2 linked regions of the Homo sapiens genome follow. The protein of the gene in region 1 purifies or fractionates together with the protein of each later gene. This does not show direct contact. Each region holds a gene or a part of one and is shown on either strand. Other genes may lie near its edges. The genes, in order: ICOSLG and TMEM131L.

What was found.
Region 2: the proteins of ICOSLG (region 1) and TMEM131L purify together in Homo sapiens (affinity purification with mass spectrometry; one large-scale study listed by BioGRID and IntAct). This does not show direct contact.

What each region holds. Positions count from the first base shown.
Region 1 is NC_000021.9:44,234,189-44,238,002, forward strand, and holds part of ICOSLG (ICOS ligand isoform a precursor), read right to left. Parts: intron 3,030-3,814; coding exon 2,679-3,029; intron 1,375-2,678; coding exon 1,084-1,374; intron 1-1,083. UniProt on the Homo sapiens protein: Ligand for the T-cell-specific cell surface receptor ICOS. Acts as a costimulatory signal for T-cell proliferation and cytokine secretion. Also induces B-cell proliferation and differentiation into plasma cells.
Region 2 is NC_000004.12:153,630,212-153,633,951, forward strand, and holds part of TMEM131L (transmembrane protein 131-like isoform 1 precursor), read left to right. Parts: intron 1-2,506; coding exon 2,507-2,627; intron 2,628-3,740.

The sequences.
Region 1 (3,814 bases):
AGCCCAGAGCTTCAGGTGCAATGGGTCTGGGCATGGGGGCTTTCATAGGCTGCCCAGATGACCCCACTGTGTGGCCGGGGTTGAGACGACAGCCCTGGGAGAAGCTTCTGCTGCCACCTGGGCTGCTCTGCGGGGAGTATGCTGGCTGGAAGGCAGTTATCAGAGGCTGCTTTGGGAGCAGCCCCTCATCCCGCTGCATGCAGCTCAGACACTCTGAATGTTGAGTCAGAAGGGCTGAGCCCTGATTTCAAGAAGGAGAAGGTCCGGCTCTGCCGGGGATCCTGGCGGCCAGGGTGGACTTCGAGGGTATGACCTGTGCAGGCTTCTGGGGTTGAGCTCAGAAAGGCCGGCAGGAGGTGCAATGCTTGTGGTCACTGTCTGGAATTCTTAATGCTCCCGAAACAAGGAGCCCTGCATTCTTGCTTTGCCCAGGGCCACACGGTGAGTCCTGCTGGCAGCCCCTTTCCTGCAGCCAGCAGGGCCCCAGGACCCCTCCTCGATCATCTCCTGCCTCCATCTTCTGCCTCTCATCCTGACACAGGAGATGGGGACACAAATGGGGAGGGCCTGTGTCCTCTACAAAGGAGTCCCCGTAGAGGAACCCCTTCCACAGGGCACCCCTTCCACAGGGAGGGGCTGGGCCAGCAGCCGTGCGCAGTGGGATTCCCGTGTCTGGGGGCTTCAGTCTTCTCAGGGGACACACGCCCAAGAGGCAGGGAGCTTGGGTGGGGGCTGCACAGCTGTGGGCTTCTGTTCTGGGCTGCTGCTGCCTAGTGCTGCGGCTTCTGAAGTGTTACCCAGCCTCAGAGTTCAGCCCTCATCTGTAAAGTAGGTTTAAGAAAACCGACTCCAGGTGAAGAAAATGGAGCAATATGCACTGGGCACGGCACCCATTCCTGTTCCCAGAGACCGCGGTGGTTCTCACTGTGCGGCATGTGCCTCTCACCTCCCCTCCCTTCCAACCACCTTTCGGGTGCTGAGCCGCGTCGAAGGGACTTTTTGTCTCCTACCTCAGAGGCTCTCCCAAGCCAGCCCTGGCCCCACTGTCGGGCACAGCTCAGCACGCAGGCGCCGGGACCTTACCTGTCTGGCTGCCGACAGTCAGGTTCTGCTGCAGAAGCACGTTCTCTATGCAGCAGCCAATGTTCACGCTGGGGGTCCGTGCGATCCTCAGCACGCTGACCACGTCATACAAGCCCCGCATGTTCAAGAAGACGGTGTCATTCTGCAGAGCCTGGTCCAGCAGGCTGTTGTCCGTCTTATTGATCCAGTACACGTTGGGCCTGGGGTAGCCGTTTATGGATGTACACGTGAAGGTGAGCTCATCCTGGGAGGGGCTGTGGGGGGCGCTGACGACGGGCACGCTGAAGTTTGCTGCAGGGGAGGGAAACAGATTGTGAGAGATGCCAGACCCTGCTGGTCAAGAAACAGAGGGTACACGGTGCCAAGGCTGGGTCAGAGGGGAGGCGGCCCATTGTGCCCCGACATGGGTGACAGGCCAGGACCAGGGCTGTGGTCCGAGCAGCAGGCTCCGCCCTGTCCTGCCCAAGAGTCATCCCCCAAGCCAGTCCCAGTAGCCAGGGACCGCTGAGCCTGTCGGGCAGTGACTGGCACCCACAGACCCCCCACTCCACAGCCGTCGGCTGTGCCGGGACCCCCTCATTTGGATCTGGTCATTCTCACTGCTGACACAGGGGCTCACAGTCCATCTGAAATGGACACAGCTGTTCTCCCCAATGAACTGCCCAGAGCTCCTTGGTTGCCTCTTATTTTTCTCTTAAATTTTGTTCTCATTTAGTGCTTTATAGAGTTCCCTTCAAATTTCACTTTTAAAACTCTAGTTTGGATGTGGTGGCTCACGCCTGTAATCACAGCACTTTGGGAGGGTGAGGCAGGAGGATCGCTTGTGTCCAGGAGTTTGAGACCAGCCTGGGCAACATAGTGAGACCCCATTTCTACAAATAATCAAAATTAGCCAGGCGAGGTGGCATGTGCCTGTAGTCCCAGATACTCAGGAGGCTGAAGCAGGAGAATTGCTTGAGCTCAGGAGGTCAAGGCTGCAGCGTGATCACGCTACTGCACTCCAGCCTGGGCAACAGTGAGACCCTGTCTCAAAAAACAAACTAATTGGCCAGGCGCGGTGGCTCACACCTGTAATCCCAGCACTTTGGGAGGCTGAGGCGGGCGGATCACGAGGCCAGGAATTTGAGACCAGCCTGGCCAACATGGTGAAACCCTGTCTCTACTAAAAATACAAAAATTAGCTGGGTGTGGTGGCACGCGCCTGTAGTCCCAGCTACTCGGGAGGCTGTGGAGAATTGCTTGAACCCAGGAGGCGGGGGTTGCGGTGAGCCAAGATTGTGCCACTGCACTGCAGCCTGGGTGACAGAGCGAGACTCCGTCTCAAAAAACAAAAACAAAAACAAAAGCTAACTAACTCAAGAGGCAAAGACAGCAAGGGTAGGAGCTCTTCCGGGAAACCAAGCAGCCGCAGGTCATGCACTAAGGATTTTTCAGCTGTTTAGTTTCCCTCGAAGTTAGACAGAAGCCTGATAACACAGATGAGAATTTTCTTCACTGGAAGAAACAGTGAATGAGCCAGGGAGGGGGTTTCATGAACACTTGTCCACGATGTGAGGCTGGGATGGACCTAGCTCTCCCCGCCTCGATGGTCCTACCTGCCACATGCAGTGTAACCTCAACGCTCAAAACCTCCTGGAATCCCAGGGATTGGCTCAACACCAGGCAGTGAAACTTCTGCTCGTCCTGGGGGGTGACGTTGAACAAGCGCAGGGAGAAGTCGCCCCGCAGCATGCCGGCCGGTGACATCAGGGCTCGGTTCCGGTAGCGGCTGTCCACGTTTTCCAAGGAGCTGTTCTGTGGGATGTGGTAGGTCACCACGGTTTTCGACTCACTGGTTTGCCAATATACGTAAACATCATTTAAATCAAAACGGCTTCCTTCAGGGCAAGCGCAGCTGAGCTCCACGTCGCTGCCTACCATCGCTCTGACTTCCTTCTCCTGAGTATCTGCAATGGCCCAAAAGGTGCAAAATCTGTTTTCGGAGGCTGATGCCCAGGCCATGAAGCTACTCTATGGGGCAGACTTTGGGTTTCAAGCCTCAAACACCAACGGTGGCTCAGAATTTATTAACAAGGCACATGTAGGAATGCAGTCAAACTTGAAAAACGCAGACATTTCATGGTGAGGTCCATGTCAGTCTTTGGCTTCGATGACACACTCCTGTTATGTAAGGGGCTGCCATGGGGAGGAGCGGCTGGATGGGGCCTGGCCGCTCAGTGTTATTTTTGTTACTCAGCACTACTTTTACTACTTCTCGGGAGTCTATAATTAATGCACAATAAAAAGTTCTTTAAGGGAAAGGCATTTAAGGGAAAAGAATTTCTCAGCAATTACATTATATTGCTGCTCACTTGCAGTAGGAAAGCTGTCACAAATGTGGCAGACACAGGGTAGCTTTACTGTTTGTGCAGCTACGTAAATGCCTGTGGGAAAATCTTTTTTTTTGAGATGGAGTCTTGCTCCGTCACCCAGGCTGGGGTGCAATGGCGTGATCTCAGCTCACTGCAACCCCCGACTCTGGGGTTCACGCCATTCTCCTGCCTCACCCTCCCAAGTAGCTGGGATTACAGGTGCCCGCCACCATGCCCAGCTAATTTTTTGTATTTTTAGTAGAGATCGGGCTTCACTATGTTGGCCAGCCTGGTCTCGAACTCCTGACCTCAGGTGATCCACCCGCCTTGGCCTCCCAAAGTCCTGGGATTACAGGAGTGAGCCACTGCACCTGGCACCT
Region 2 (3,740 bases), on another chromosome or scaffold:
GCAATTCTTAATCAGACCTAGGGAAGGTGGAACCAATCTGCTTTGTCTGTCTCATACATTTATTAACAGCGGCTGTCCACAGGAGCCTACGCAGCAGGATGAGGCCACTTTGCAGTATTGACCTCAGCCATGCCCTAGAGTCTCAGACCCAACCAGCTGAACAAATCCCACAGACCACCAGGGTCTACCTTAGAGAGCCAGATGGCTTTCTCTTTAAGTTTCTGTGTTGATCTCTCCACTTGGCCAGAGGCATTACTCCAGGTACAGCAGGATGTGTTAGTGATTGCATAGACTGCACCTTGGCCTGCAAGGAGAACATCTGGAGCCATTCTGTCATCTGTAACAACCACGGCCAGTGAGTTGAGGCTGATCCAAATGCCTTCCAGGGACCAGGTGCTGTCTTCAGTCACTTCAGCTAGTATCAGCAAATTCCATACCAGCCATTTCTAACTGGATAGCTCCTTCCTAGTGATTACTGCCCATAGGATGTGCGTGAACCAGTTATCCTTCCAGGAAGCCTACTGTGTGCCCGTTGTGTGATGCTGGAAGTGTTGCCATGTCTGGGGCAATGATGCACCCAGGCAACAACAATGGCAGCCTGGGTGATGCAGACCTGATCAGTATCTTGATTCCAGCTGGCCGCAGTGGAGAACATACCCTTACCAAGGACCTCTATCTTGACTGGCTGTAAGGTTTAATCAGAAGCCAAGATCCATTTTCACATTTCAGAGCCCTGGAGAACAGTGTCTTCAATCTGCCCATCTGTTGCTTCCCAAGTGGCAGACCAAGCACCTAAACCATTGGCAATAGCCTGAGAGTTGTTTACACCTAGCAGGGTTTCTTCAGGGCAGAATTAGCCAGAGCTGTGAGAACCACTTTGGGTTCTGCCCACTGATCAAAATGGTTGTGGTCCTTTTCAGTTCTGCATGGTGGGCATTGAGGTGGGACAGCTGCAGCCTCCCAGTAGATGCTGTCTGATTTCAGCCTGATCCAGCCATCAGTGAGCCAGGCCCAGGCATTTAAGGGAGCCCTTGGGAATTGAGGGCCCACTGAGCCAACAACTTCACTTCAGGTGCAGAGTGGGGGATAAAGTTTCCCTAGAGGGGTACCTGCCATTTTTCCACATAAAGCTGAAATATAGGTGGGGCAAGCCCACTGCATGAGCACCAGCCTCTTTGCATGAGTTCCCCTGAGCCCCATGGGGATATTTAATCACAGAATATCTAATATCTAATATAGGGGTGACTCAGACAGCCCTAGATGGATGCCACACACAGTGGGTTGTGCTACAGGAGAAGAACCCTGAGCTTTGGGACCCCAAAGCTTTTATAATAGGCAACAAGCATGCCTGCCCTTTGCTCCAGAAAGAGACACTATATGTTCCGAGGCTTTTGCTTAGCAAACATCTATGAAAAGATAGTCCAGGAGAAAGGTTGCCAGTGCCTCTGGCAGAAATGGGAGAGATCCCTAGAGACTTGTGTCCAAGAAGTCAACTCTGCTCAAAACCTTCCAGTAGCTTCAAAGTAAATGCCTAAATTCTTCAAGGGGCCCACAGGCTCTGTCTTCTCTGCTCCCAATCCGCTCTCTATAGCCTCATCCCCTACTCTTCCACTTTCCCCTCTCCTTCCTGGCTACACTGATATCCTTGCTGTTTGAACTCCCCAGGCACACCTTGCTTCAGGGCTTTTGTGGTACTGTTTCTGCTGCCTGGAATGTGCTTCCCTGTACCCACTGGACTCACTTCCTCACGTCAATCACGTCTTTGAGGAGCTGTTTTCTCAGTGAGGCCTTTGACCATCCTATCTTAAATCATTGTATTTGGCCAGGCGTGGTGGCTCACGCCTGTAATCCCAACACTTTGGGAGGCCGAGGCAGTGGATCAGTTGAGGCCAGGAGTTTGAGAGCAGCCTGGTCAACATGGTGAAACCCTGTCTCTACTAAAAATATAAAAATTAGCTGGGCATGGTGGTGTGTGCCTATAGTCCCAGTTACGCAGGAGGCTGAGGCATGAGAATCACTTGAACCTGGGAGGTAGAGGTTGCAGTGAACCAAGATGCCACCACTGCACTCCAGCCTGGGCAACAGAGTGAGACCATCCCTCCCCCCACCCAAAAAAAAATGCTGTATTTGCCATCATGGCACGCACATTATCTGGCATGCTACACTTTGTTTGTTGTTTGTCTTTGCTCACTTGAATGTAGCTTGTTCACTGCTGTATCCTCAGTATCTTTAATGGGGCCTTGCAGAAAGTAGTTCCTCAAATATTTGTTATGTGAGTCTCATCTTGTCATCCAGGTCAAGAGACAATCGGACACTGTCTGAAGAAACGGTCAAAACAATATGCTGTATTTCAGAATTATATCCTGAAATTATATTCCGAAAGGAGTTAGTCAGCATGTGTGGGTGACATTAGGGAGTGTTTTCTGGAGGGAAGGGCAGGTGCAGGAAGGGTAGGATGAGGGCCAGGTGAGGATAGGGTGGACTCAGGCCTTGTTCTCTTCCGTAGGTCTTTACTCACCTGGAGACCTGTGGCCCACTCCGCCAGTGTGTGTGACAAGCAGCTTAAACTGCACCCTGGAGAACGGCGTGCCTTGTGTGATTCAGGAGTCGGCCCCGGTTCATAATAGGTACAGCTTCACTTCTCTGATTGGTGCCTTGCTTAGTCTAAGGGCTTGCAGTTGGAATTTGAGTTCAGTTTCTTAGGGTTTCCTTACAAAAATGAAGGCTAGGCTTCTTCCTTGGTGTACTTTAGCTGTGCGTTTCCTTCTGCCTTTTAGAGTTGCACTGGGACTAAACCAGGCATTGAGAGAAACATGAAATAAAAGAAAGAAAGCTGGTGACAGTGTCGTTATTTTTTAAAAACGTCTTTAAAAAAGACGATTTTTTCATATATTAGAGGCAGATTTGAAAAAAAAACACTCATAATTCCTAACTGCTAGCAGAGCAAAGCTGTTCATTTTTCTGTGGCATTATTCTTGAACACGTTTAACGTTGTATTTATTCGTTTGTTTATTTATTTTTTAGAGACAGAGTCTTGCTCTGTCGCCCAGGCTGGAGCGCAGTGGTGCAATTATAGCTCACTGCAGCCTTGAACTCCTGGGTTCAAGCGGTTCTCCTGCCTCAGCCTCTCAAGTAACTGGGACTACAGGTGTGTGCCACCATGCTGGTCTAATTTTTAATTTTTTTTTTTTTTTTTTTGTAGAGACAGGATCTTGCTTTGTTGCCTAGGCTGCTCTTGAACTCTTGGTCTCAAGCTATCCTCCTGCCTTGACCTCCCGAAGTGTTGGTATTATAGGCATGAGCCAATACACCTGGCCCAAATTTAAAGTTTTAAAAGATCAAATAATTTGAATATTGAAAAATAGTTACACAATGGCAGTTTCTCAAATTTGCTATTTGACATTAATATGTCATTCTATTAGGGAGTCTTAAGAAAATGTTAGATATTTAATCACAGAATCCATTTGATGGTTTTCTTGGTTCAGCTTATTACAACAGTATTTCCTATCTCATTTCTATAATAAGAATCTAGGTTGCAATAGGGATCAAAGTATAATGAAGTATAGTCTTTATAGTTATGCTTGTCTAAGATGAATGCTGGTCTTGCTCTGAGTGGACGTTTTTAATGGAACATGTTTAAGTCCTTCAGATGTGCACAAAGACACTTAAAGGTATTCCAGCTGTTCTTTCACAGTGCTGATAAAGCCACGGCTCTCTATTCTGTCTCTAGTTAGACTTAA